Regions from separate parts of the Homo sapiens genome. Here all the other regions are linked to region 3. Evidence: fine-mapped QTL for protein levels in blood plasma. Region 3 holds a variant in brackets. A gene starts in each other region. All regions are shown on their forward strands.

Region 1 (4,243 bases), not on the chromosome of region 3:
TGGTCAGGCTGGTCTCGAACTCCCAACCTCAGGTGATCCATCTGCCTTGGCCTCCCAAGGTGCTGGGATTACAGCCGTGAGCCACCGTGCCCCACCATCTCTCTATCTCTGTCTATCCTACTCTCTCATCTCTGTCTCTCTGTCTCTGTCTCTCATCTTCCCATCTGTGTCTCTCTTTCTCTGTCTTCCTCCCTTATCTCTGTCTCTGTGTCTCTCTCATTTCCCTATCTCTGTCTTCCTCTCTTATCTCTGTCCCTCTGTCTCTCTTCCTCTGTCTGTCTGCTCTCTGTGTTTCTCTTTCTGTTTCCATCATCTCCCTGTCTCTCTCTGTCTCTGTGTCCTCCTCCTCTCATCTCTGTCTCTGTCTCTCTCATTCCCCTGTCTCTCTCTGTCTCTATCATCTCCCTATCTATCTCTGTGTCCTCCTCCTCTCATCTCTGTCTCTCTCTGTGTTTCTGTCTCTGTCATCCCCCTTTCTCTGTCTCTGTCATCTCCCTGTCTCTCTATCTCTGTGTCCTCCTCCTCTCGTCTCTGTCTCTCTGCCTCTCTCATCTGTATCTCTCTCTGTCTCTGTCATCTCCCTGTCTCTGTCTCTCTCTATCTCTGTGTCCTCCTCTCATTTGTCTCTCTGCCTCTCTCATCTGTATCTCTGTCACTTTCTCTGTCATCTCCCTGTCTCTCTATCCCTCTATCTCTGTGTCCTCCTCTCATCTGTCTCTCTGCCTCTCTCATCTGTAGCTCTCTCTGTCTCTGTCATCTCCCTGTCTCTCTATCCCTCTATCTCTGTGTCCTCCTCTCATCTGTCTCTCTGACTCTCTCATCTTTGTCTCTGTCTCTGTCTCTGTCATCTCCCTGTCTATCTCCGTGTCCTCCTCCTCTCATCTCTGCCTTTCTCATCTCTGTGTCTCTCTCTGTGTTTCTGTCTCTGTCATGCCCCTTTCTCTGTCTGTCATCTCCCTGTCTCTATCTATCTCTGTGTCCTCCTCCTCTCATCTCTGTCTCTCTCATCTGTATCTCTCTCTGTCTCTGTCGTCTCCCTGTCTCTCTATCTCTTTGTCCTCTTCCTCTTGTCTTTCTCTCTGCCTCTCTCATCTGTGTCTCTCTCTGTCTCTGTCTCTGTCATCTCCCTGTCTCTGTCTCTCTCTCTCTGTGTCCTCCTCCTCTCGTCTCTTTCTCTCTGCCTCTTTCATCTGTGTCTCTGTGTCTCTCTGTCATCTCCCTGTCTATCTCTGTGTCCTCCTCCTCTCGTCTCTGTCTCTCTGCCTCTTTCATCTGTGTCTCTCTGTCTCTGTCTCTGTCATCTCCCTGTCTCTGTATCCCTCTATCTCTGTGTCCTCCTCTTCTTGTCTCTGTCTCTCTGCCTCTCTCATCTGTGTCTCTCTCTGTGTCTCTGTCTCTGTCATCTCCCTGTCTCTCTGTGTCTTCCTTCTGTCTTCTCTGTCTCTCTGCCTCTCTCCCCCATCTCTGCCTCTGTCTCCCTCCATGTCCCTGAGCCCCTGCCTGCCTGCCTGGGGTTTCCCCCGCTTCAGGGCAGCGGAAGGAAGGCCAGCAGGACATGCTGTGCTGGGAAAAGCCAGCAGGTCTCCACTTCTCCCTTTCACAGCCTCCTCCCCCGCCCCCACCCTCGGGGCCTTCCGAGCAGGGGTGGCCTGTGCTCCCCAGGGGGCTGGGGCTCCTCCACACCCTAATTCATCTCCCTAGCGGCCCCACGAGCCCCACCAGTGAGTCAGACCTGAAGGAAGTCGGGGAGGGGGCGGGCCTTGACCCTGGGCTGGGCTTTCCCCTGGGCAGGTCCCAAGTCCTCACCTCCCCTCTCAAGTCTCCCACGACGTTCCCACCCACTCCTGAGAGCAGAGCTGGCCGCAGCCATGACCCCGCAGCTTCTCCTGGCCCTTGTCCTCTGGGCCAGCTGCCCGCCCTGCAGTGGAAGGAAAGGTATGTGGGGCCCCTGGGGGACTGGGGGGCCCAGGCAGACGGACATGACACGAGGACTGGCCTCGGATCATGTCTGGGGTGGGAAATCACATCCTCCCGTGCCCAATGGTGGGATGGGGTTACCCTCCCATTGTACAGATGGAGGAACTGAGGCACAGAGAGGCAGAGTGCCACATTGGGGGTGGAAGGATGTCACCTTGTGGGTGATAGGGACTGGCAGTCACAGCTCAGAGGTATCCATAGAGCTACACAGACATAGCTACACAGACATGCGAATTTGAGTCACACTCATTCCTTTGGTTTCTTTTTGGTTTTGTTTTTTGAGACAGAGTCTCACTCTGTCGCCCAGGCTGGAGTACAGTGGCACCATCTCAGCTCACTGAAACCTCCATCTCCTGGGTTCAAGCGAGATTCTCCTCCCTCAGCCTCCCGAGTAGTTGGGATTACAGGTGCCCGCCACCATGCCCGGCTACTTTTTATATTTTTAGTAGAGATAGGGTTTTACCATGTTGGCCAGGGTGGTCTTGAACTCCTGACCTCAGGTGATCCACCCACCTCGGGCTCCCAAAGTGCTGGGATGACAGATGTGAGCCACCGCGCCCGGCCGACATTCATTCATTTTGCACTAGAGAACATCTCCATGTCCTTGAAGACAAAATGGTTACAGCAGGGCATGGTGGCTCATGCCTGTAATTCCAGCACTTTGGGAGGCCAGGGCGTGAGGATCGTGAGGCCAGGAATTCGAGACCAGCCTGGGCAACATAGTGAAACCGGACCCCACCAATCTGTACAAAAAATTAAAAAATTAGCTAGATGTGGTGGCACGTGCCTGTAGTCCCAGCTACTTGGGAGGCTGAGGTGGGAGGATAATTTGAGCCCAGGAATTGGAGGCTGCAGTGAGCTATGATTGTGCCACTGCATTCCAGCCTAGGTGACAGAGTGGGATACCTTGTCTCAAAATAATAATAATAATAATAATTTATAGGCTGGGTTTGGTGGCTCACGCCTGTAATTCCAGCACTTTGGGAGGCCAAGGCAGGTGGATCACCTGAGGTCAGGAGTTTGAGACCAGCCTGGCCAACATGGTGAAACTCCCTCTCTACTAAAAATACAAAAATTAGCCAAGCGTGGCAGTACATGCCTGTAATCCCAGCTACTCGGGAGGCTAAGAATCGCTTGAACCCGGGAGGCGGGGGTGGCAGTGAGCCGAGATCTCGCCACTGCACTCCAGCCTAGGCGACAGAGGGAGACTCCCTCTTTAAAAAAAAAAAACAATTACAAAAGAGAGAACACGGTAAAATCTCTCTCTCTTACCCGAGTTCCTCTCTGTAGATGCTTAAACCTCAGCTTCCCTATCTGGAAAATGGGCTAGTAGTCCTCACCTAGATGGATTGCAGTGGGGATAAAAGATGACAGATGACTTTTGTCCATGTACCTATTTATTCCGAAAGCCTTTATTAGGCACCTACCATGTACCTGGTGCTGGCTGGCAACGTGGCAGGAGCCCAGCGCACGGGAGGGCTATGACAATCTGGGGGTAAACCAGAAGCTCACTCTTTCTGTCTTCCTCCAGGGCCCCCAGCAGCTCTGACACTGCCCCGGGTGCAATGCCGAGCCTCTCGGTACCCGATCGCCGTGGATTGCTCCTGGACCCTGCCGCCTGCTCCAAACTCCACCAGCCCCGTGTCCTTCATTGCCACGTACAGGTCGGAGAGCCTGGAAGGGGGCCTCAGGGACACTGGACTTCCTGGAGAGCCCAGAACTCTGGCCCTGAGAGCCCTGGGGTCAGGAAAACTGGAGACCCCGACATCCTGAACCCCAGGCCTATGGAATTCTAGGGCGGCCCCGTCCAATAGAAATATACTTTCTGGGCCAGGCACAGTGGTGCATGCCTGTAATCCCAGCGCTTTGGGAGGCCGAGGTGGGCAGATTGCTTGAGGTCAGGAGTTTGAGACCAGCTTGGGCAACGTAGTGAGACACTGTCTCTACGAAAAATTTTAAAAATTGGTCAGGTGCAGTGGCTCATGCCTGTAATCCCAGCTACTCCGGAGGCTGAGGCAGGAGAATAGCTTGAACCCAGGAGGCGGAGGTTGCAGTGAGCCAAGATGGCACCATTGCACTCCAGCCTGGGCAACAGAGCAAGACTCCATCTCAAAAAAAAAAAAAAAAAACTACTTCCTGGGTTGGGCACAGTGGCACATGCCTGTAATCCCAGTACTTTGGGAGGCTGATGTGGGAGGATCACTTGAGGTCAGGAGTTTGAGTCCAGCTTGGGCAAAATAGTGAGACCCTGTCTCTAAAAACAATT
Region 2 (4,000 bases), not on the chromosome of region 3:
TGGGATTACAGGCATGAGCCACCACGCCTGGCAGTTTATTTATTTTTCTGAGACAGGGTTTCCCTCTGTTCTCCATCCTGGAGTCCAGGATCATAACTCACTGCAGCCTCCAACTCCTGAGCTCAAGCAATCCTCCCATGTCAGCCTCCTGAGTAGCTGGGACCAAAGGTGTACACCACCATGCCTGGCTAACTCTTAAATTTTTTTTTGTAGAGACAAAGTTTCACTATGTTGCCCAGACTGGTCTTGAACTCCTGGCCTCAAGCAGTCCTTCCACCTGGGCCTCCCAAAGTGCTGGGTTTATAGGTGTAAGTCACCATGCCTGTCTTTCATCTCTATGTCCAATGACATATTCAGCCTTATCCAGGTTCTATCCCCAATGCATCTCCAGCTCAATCTCCAGCCTCATCTTGCACCCTGGCCCCAGCCTATCACAAGCTTCCCGCCCCACTCCACCAGCCCTCACTCACAGAGAGGCGGCGCCAGGCCTGGAAGGTCAGGGAAACATCAGGGAGCTGCTCTCCCAGGGGCAGGAGGTACAGGTTCACTCCTGGCAGGTGAGATTCCGCCTGGGGGGCAAGGTCTGTTAGTGGGGGCCAGAAGGGATTGGGGGTCTGCCCATCTCCAGCGCCAGCTGCATTAGGGGGACTTACAAAGCGGTGGGCCTGGCCCCGAACCTCGGAGAGCAGCTTCCTGGCGAGATGCAGGCTGACTGTGAACTCCCTCCGCAGCTCCTGCAGGCTCAGCTGGGGCCTCCCTGGGGGCCTTGGGAATCCCCAGACACCAGCTTGAACCAGGAGCAAGGGAAGCAGCAACAGGCTGAGCCCTGGAGAGATGGGAAGAGGGTGGCAAGACAGGGAGAGAGCTTGAGAAGGAAGGGAACATGCCTTTTCTGAGCCTGTGCTAGCTGTGAGCACGGTGCAGGCACTTTGACCAGCATCATTCCTCTGCCTCCTCAAAACCACAATGGAGGCTGGGTGCGGTGACTCACACCTGTAATCCCAACAATTTAGGAGACCGAGGCGGGCGGATCACCTGAGGCCAGGAGTTCAAGACCAGCCTGGCCAACATGGCGAAACCCTGTCTCTACTAAAAATACAAAAATTAGTTGGGCGTGGTGGTGCATGCCTGTAATCCCAGCTACTCAGGAGGTTGAGGCAGGAGAATCGCTTGAACCTGGGAGGCAGAGGCTGCAGTGAGCTAACACCACTGTGCTCCAGCCTGGGCGACAGAGCCAGACTCTGTCTCAAAAAAACAAAACAAAACAAAACAAAACAAAACCCCACGATGCAGCCAGCACGGCCCCCATATGGCATCTCCGCATGGTGTGCCCACTTTTGCAAAAAGACCAGAAGCCTGATCCTTTTTTTTTTTTTTTGAAACAGAGTTCTGTTCTATCACCCAGCCTGGAGTGTAGTGGTGTGATCACAGCTCACTGTAGCCTTGAACTCCTAGGCTCAAGTGATCCTCTCGCCTCAGCCTCCCAAGTAGCTGGGATCACAGGGACACACCACTGTGCCTAACTGTTTCTATTTTTTTGTAGAGACAGGGTCTCACTATGTTGCCCAGGCTGGTCTTGAACTCCTGGCCTCAAGAGATCTTCCCGCCTCAGCCTCCCAAATTGCTGGGATCACAGGCATGAGCCACTGTGCCGGGACAGAGACTGGATTTTGACCCCCATAAACTCCCTTGGCCAAATGCCTTTTTCAGTGAGCAACCTGCACAACCACGTGTGGCAGCCTCAGTGCTATTGTTCTCCCCAATTTGCAGGTGAGGCTCAGTGAGGTTGACTTGCCCAAGGTCAAATAGCCAGAAGGTGGGAAGCCAGGACTGGATTCCAGGTTTTTCCAAATGCAGAGCCCATGGGTTTTCCCCAGAGAATGCAGAGGGAGGCAGCCATCTGCCCCAGGAGTGGGCACACCATGTTCTGGCAAGGATTCTTTGGGCTCAGCCAAGCGGCTCTGATGGCTTGAACTGGCCATGAGGTCCCCAGGGATGGGCTGGCAATGCCAGAGGCTCTATTCCAGGGAGTCAAAAGGACAGGTTTGTCCAGTTTCCACCACGGCAGGTGGATCCTAGCAGGGTAACCTGCCTGGGGCGAATCCACAGTATGGGAGCTTTTTTTTTTTTAAGACAGATTCTCACTCTGTCACCCAGGCTGCAGTGCAGTGGCGCGATCTCGACTCACTGCAACCTTCACCTCCCAGGTTAAAGCAATTCTCCTGCCTCAGCCTCCTGAGTAGCCACCACGCCTGGCTAATTTTTATTATATTTAGTAGAGAGGGGTTTTGCCGTGTTGGCCAGGCTGGTCTCCAACTCCTGACCTCAGGTGATCCGCCTGCCTTGGCCTCCCAAAGTGCTGGGATTACAGACATCAGCCACTGCGCCCAGCCCAGAATGGCTGAATTCCGAGTGTGCTTCCTGACCTGTGTTTTCCTGGAAAGAGGGGCAGCGGATGGGCGCTCTAGGAAGAGGGCAGCATTCATCAATTTCCCCCTCAGGGAGAGGAAATCTAGCAAGCACAAGAGTTACACAATTCTCCTCGAAACACAAACCAAAACTGGCCCGAAGTCCATCCTGCTCTCCCTTCTCTCCCTGCCTCTTCCCTGTCCTCTCTCAATCTCTAACCCCTGGGCTCTGCTCTTCGAAATGTCCCCTGATAAAGGTGAAGGGGAGCTTCTAGGGACATCTACCTCCCTCGTGGGCTTGCAGATGTGGTGGGCGATGCCTAACGTAAGATCTCTGGCATTCAGACTCCCTGGTTTTGGGGCCACTCGGACCCTCTGACATCCTGGAGACTTAAGGCAGAGTGGGGTTCTTCCTAGCTCAATGTTGGGGACAGGGTGGGTGCCCCCAGGCCCTGGTGGATCAAGCCCAACCGTAAGTGAGCTGTGCCATCTCCAACCTGACCTCTGGAGACCCCAGACCCCCTCCTTACCCTCTGCAGCTGATCCTGGGTCATTGGCTCTGGCCTTTGAAGGCTCTGTCTCCATCCTCCAGCCTTTGGTCCCTACCTGCCCTACGTGGCATGTTACCTTCTCCACTGCCTACTGCTCTGGTTCTAGCCCCTGAGTTCTGCAGCCACCAGCCGCAGATTGGACCTCTTTCCAACATCAAACTAAAGACCTTTGACCCAGTGAGGCTGCTGACATCTTGGTCCCAGTGCTCCACTTGTGCCAGCACCTCGTTCTGCTCTTCCTCCAGCCGGCCCCATTCTCAGTCTTAGCCAAGCTGTTTGGCTTCTGCTTATTCACTCCAAACTCTTCATTTATCTGCCTAGACCTGGTCCTTGTCAAATTGCTGGTCCAACCCTCCCCATTCCCACTAGCCAAGGCCTCCTTCTCATCCTCTGCCCAGCCCTGGGTCAGACCACCACCCCACTGCCCCAGGCCCCCACCCAGTCATGCCAGCCTCCCTTCCCATGCAGCAGCCAGCCGAATCCTCAGTCTTGGCCAAGTTGCTGCTCTCAGCTCTCGACCCCCCATCTGCACCAGCCAAGCTCGTCCATTCTCTGCCCAAACTCAACCAAGCCCCCCACCCCTGGCTTCAAACTCACGCCAGCCAAGGTCGCCTGCCGTCTGGCCCATGGCGGGGCCCAGCCTCTTTGGTCAGCCATCTCCTGGGTAGGGGGGGTCTTATACTGGGGGCTGTGCCCGGTTTCACTTTCCGTCCTGCTTGTACTTTCAGCTTTGTGTTCACTCATTCTTCCCTCTCGCCACCCCTTGCTAAAATGGGGAAATGTAATTTCCCTTCCCGGAGGGGGTGGGAGGTATGATGGGGGGTGACGGGAAGCTGGGGTTTCGGGACATCCAAGCTCCAGACTCACTGCTAAGCTCCCACGTCCAGCCCTGTCCTCAATGTCCCATGCTTGGGTGAGCCATCCAGCCCTATTCACTGGTTGATCCCAGAGTCCCAAACCCCCTCCTGATTCTCGGCTCTGCCACCATCATCCTAGGGTCTACTGTCCTTCCAAAGATGGATAGCCAGGTAAGGGGATTGC
Region 3 (4,283 bases):
ATCTTAGAGATCACCTGATCTAAGTCCCTGATACCACAGATGAAGCCCGGAGAGGAGAAGTGAATTCCCCAGAGTCACAGAGCTGGGTAATAGTGACAAAAGCTGGAACTTGAAGCTAGGTCTCTTGATTCAGAAAGCTTGGTACTCTGCCACATAACCACTGAATTCCTTTTACTTTCTCTCCAAATCACTCCATGAACCAAGAGAATTTTCTTGACTCAGTACTTTGGTGACCACAGTTATTTTAACTTCATTGCTCTGTCAACCTCAAGTGGGTTTCTGGCATTCCCAGTTCCTAATTCGGTTATGCAATCCATCAGCAAAATTTGACCAACGCAATTTAGCTTGGGTGAGAAAATGTTTAGGCACTTTCATCAATAGTTTTTTTTTTTTTAAGCTTGATGAGACCATTTGATCTGCTGCAGGTGAACCCAATGTACTAAAATAATTGTTAGGACATGTGCACGTTCCTTTTATAAAATGCCTCACATAACATACATCTCTGTGTGAATTTTAGCCTCGCTTTGTGGTAGGATGAACCTCTTTTTCTGACCAAAAAGTACATGCAAATTGGTTCACTTCCCATAAACTTGGGTTCCATCTAAACAAATTGGTTAATTAAATAAGTAACAAATGAATATCCAATTATACAAATATTCATCAGGGAGGGCCATCAGGGTGAGCTTTCGACGTGAATAAGCGTCTTAGAATTACTCAAAAAAGATAAGAGTGGTGCCAAGCTGGGGGATTCTATTTCACAAATATTTCCCTTTCATATCTCTGGTCTTTGTCAATCTCTTTGGAGTCACCAAGGCAGACAAGCAATTGACAGTTTCTTGCAGTAAATTATTTTGCCTGGAAATCCTGCATAGCAGGTATTGCCTGACTTAGCTGGAAATGATAAACTAGCAATGTTGCTATTCGAGTTGGGAGGACCTGAAGGAGCATAAAGCTACCTGCTGTGTTTTCATATCTCCTAAAGGGAGTGATAAAGAACTTCAGTTTAATGGAGGGGGTTGGGGACGGGGTGAAGAGAGCAAGAAGAACCAGACTTCTCCAAAGCCTTCCCTTTGGGTTAAACTACCCAGAGAAAAAGCCAAACCCAGCCTTGATCACAACTCCATTCTGCAGCAACATCTCCAAAGATATCACAGATCTACAAAGATCTGAGTTATAAAAATCTTTCCCTGGCTTCTCCTGGAATGTTCTGAACTGGCTTCTTAAGAAGTGTTCTCCTGTGTCTGGTGTGGGTGAATCTGACGTGGCTTCTTGTATTTGCCAGAGGTGAATGGACTGTGCCAAAATGACCCACATCCTTCCCAGGGGTTTGGTGGGTGCTGATACCTAAGGTACTGCAGGTATTTTAGTGTCCTGCTGCCTGTCTGGAGCCAGGTGGCCTCATTTAAAAATTCTTGAGCCTCATTCTGCACTAGCCCCCACCACCACCATCACCGCCACTAACCTCCTGGCATTCTTCCCTAGGGCACTGGGATTCAGGCTGAGACCTGCTTTCTTACAGAGATGTTTCCTTCCTATCTGGCATATCCAGGTAGAAATCACGTTTCATAATGTTTTTCTCCTTTTGTTCTCAGATGTTCTAAGTCGGCTCCCTGCAGCACATGTCAACATTAGAACACCTGGGGCAGAGCTGGCTCCCAGAACAAAAGGACACTGCCAACAAGCTTGCTTAGTGTTTCTCTGCAGTGGAAATCTTGGGACTGCGGCCTGCTTAGAAATACCCGAGATAATGCAGGGGAGAAAAAAAGTGCAAGGCTTCCTATTAGAACAAGATAGAAAACCACATAGATCGTTTTAAGGAAGCTGAGCTTTTGACTGGACATGAGGGGAAATGGCGTAGGGAAGGTGGCCTGTCACTGCCCCGCTTTTGTTGAGTGTACTTTGGGCTTTATTTCGTTGGTCACGATTGCAGCAGGTTCTGCTGCTGACCTTCTATCAAGATGGTCCCTGGGTAATGTGGGGTCCAGCATCAGCTCTTGAGGAAAGTGGAAAGGCTGCTGAGTGTATGCGCCACAAGAAGCCCCTCCCTCAGCTCTGTCTCTCAATCACTAAGAATGTTGATTCACTAAAGTCCAAACTTGCGCTGGCGCCATCTTGGCCTCTCATGCCCTCCCTGGTCTCTCTCCGTCACCTCCATAAAAAGCTACAAGTGAGTCAGCTGCAACGGGAAAAAGGAAAGAGGTGTGTTTCTGGCTCCCATACATATGACTCTGAGCAGAGAACAACTGCAAACAAAGCCTTAAACCTGAAACTCTAAAGGGCAGGGTGTGGGAAGGTTTGCGGCCCGGTGCGGGCAAGGTTGAAGTGGCATGTTCAGCAGGTTGGACATGTGTACTTTCCTTCCATTTAATAATTAGAAAGGAATGAACTCTCCCCACTGAACTGCGGCCCAGCTCTGGTGCTCCTCGTGGAAAATACCACTTAAGACAACACCAAGCTTCAAAGCCCTTGCATTTCCTGGCCAAGGATAAAGGGTTCCCTCTTTCCCTGCAGTGAGTCCTACCCCTCTGAACCCAGCGCCAGTTACTCATGTTCTAGAATGTTTATTAATTAAGTTTGGCTTCTCTGGTTGATTTTGCAGAAAG[A/AT]TTTTTTTTTTCACACTTTGAAATCAAGCATCTGCACATGGGTTGGTTGGCAGTCTGTTTGCAGACAAGGATGCAGAAAGAAAAGTCCTTGGACTCCATGCCGTGTTGTGTGGCTGCAGAACGCTGCCTCTAGTGCCATTCCTCAAGGTCTGCATAACTAGAAGAAGTTATCTGTGTTGTTAACAGGAGACAATATCACCCTGTCGTACCTCTGTGGAATGTTGCTAGGTAAGAAATGAGAATTGTTCATCCAGGCCTGCAGAGGCCTCTCATGAAGGACCGGCAGATATTTTGCAGGAATCCTGGATTGTTTCCCTTGATATGAGGCTTAAACATCTAGAAAAACATTATGAAATGTGATTTCAATCCACCTGGCAGTAAGGGACCCTGTGGTGTTAGGTTTTTAAAAACTCACACACACTTATAACCATGGAGACAAGTTTTAGCCTGTACCTTGGAGCCCCTAGTTAAATCCCAGGAGACAACGCAACAGAGAATGTGTAGGGTGGGATTCAGTGGACTCGAGTCAGACCACCCAGGTTCCAATCCCAGCTCCTTCACTTATTAATGCTAAGTAGGAGACAGCGACAAATTACTGAACCTCTTTGTGCTGTGGTTTCCTCATCCTTAAAAGGGGAACAATAGTAGTCCCTACCTCGCAGAGTTGCTACGAGGATTAAATTATATTTGTAAAGTGCTTAGAAGTGTGTCTGACACATAGTAAGCTCTATATAAGTGTTTGCTAAATAAATAAAGGTGTATGTTGCAATTGTATTAGTTTGTGAGGGCTTCTATAAGAAAGTACCACAGGCTGGGTGGCTAAAACAACAACAATTGATTGTCTCACAGTTCTCGAGGCTGGAAGTTCGAGATCAGGGTGTTGGCAGGGTTGGTTTCTCCTGCAGTCTCTCTCCTTGGCTTGTAGACGGCCACCTTCTCCCTGTGTCCTCACGTGGTCTTCCCTCTGTAGCTGTCTGTGTCCAAATTTCCTGTTCATAGAAGGACACCAGTAATATCAGATTAGGCCCTGCCGGAATGACCTCATTTTAATTTAATCACTCCTCTAAAGGCCCTATCTCCAAATACAGCCACATTCCGAAGTACTAGGGGGTAGGACTTCGACATAGGCATTTTGGGGGGTGGGTAATGCAATTCAGCCCATAGCAACACTTTTAACATGAGCTCCTCTGGCTCCAGGGGGACTGTGTGCAGCTGAGATAGACATGTGTAATGGCAACTACCAAACCACATGCAAGGAGGCTCTTCGATCTGTGTGAATCATCTTTCAGCCCTGGTATGTTCATCCATCAAACTCTTATTTTATACTATACTCACAGGCTGGGCCTCTTCTGGGGACTTTAGGAGCACATTTCTTTAATTGGTCAAGTCTTTCATTTTCAAGCTCTATTGGATTCTCCCTAGTCCCGGCGTCCTTTTGCTAAAATCTGTCTTTGATAGACTTTGAGTATGTTGCTCATCAATCAATCCTTCATCTTTCCAGAGTGTCTTGATTCTTTAAGACTGCTTGCACACAGACTCAACCTGTTCTGTTTTTTAACTAATTTGATAGTTTTGTTTCTAATTCTTCATGGCGTGCCTTAATGGGTGGGACAGAATGCTCTGTATCTCACCACGCATGCAAGAGTGTTAGCTTATGAACAACTGGCTTGTTCTGATGGG

Alleles and levels. Alleles are on the strand shown, and positions count from the first base shown. The strength of an association depends on the size of the effect and on how common the allele is.
With allele AT in place of A in region 3, the plasma level of the protein whose gene starts at base 1,841 in region 1 is higher (weak association).
As copies of AT replace A in region 3, the plasma level of the protein whose gene starts at base 3,610 in region 2 goes up (weak association).

The links. PIP is the posterior inclusion probability: the model's chance that the variant is causal. Protein levels are from antibody-based Olink assays in UK Biobank. Linkage for the fine-mapping came from a reference panel and not from the study's own genotypes, which makes the PIPs less certain.
Region 1: EBI3 starts here. The variant in region 3 is fine-mapped to the plasma level of the EBI3 protein (UK Biobank, PIP 0.98).
Region 2: it holds the start of IL27, and the variant in region 3 is fine-mapped to the plasma level of the IL27 protein (UK Biobank, PIP 0.98).

Annotation. Positions count from the first base shown.
Region 1 is chr19:4,227,683-4,231,925 of GRCh38, forward strand. EBI3 (Epstein-Barr virus induced 3) reads left to right here and starts at 1,841. Exons shown (of 5, transcript NM_005755.3): 1 at 1,841-1,935; 2 at 3,509-3,641. The coding sequence starts at 1,869. RefSeq lists enhancers at 2,061-2,150, 3,114-3,615.
Region 2 is chr16:28,503,225-28,507,224 of GRCh38, forward strand. IL27 (interleukin 27) reads right to left here and starts at 3,610. Exons shown (of 5, transcript NM_145659.3): 1 at 3,557-3,610; 2 at 654-826; 3 at 471-569. The coding sequence starts at 3,587.
Region 3 is chr3:12,227,815-12,232,097 of GRCh38, forward strand. No RefSeq gene overlaps it. Among named protein-coding and RNA genes, the nearest start is that of PPARG, 59 kb to the right of the region's middle. The variant A/AT (reference allele first, on the strand shown) is at 2,604.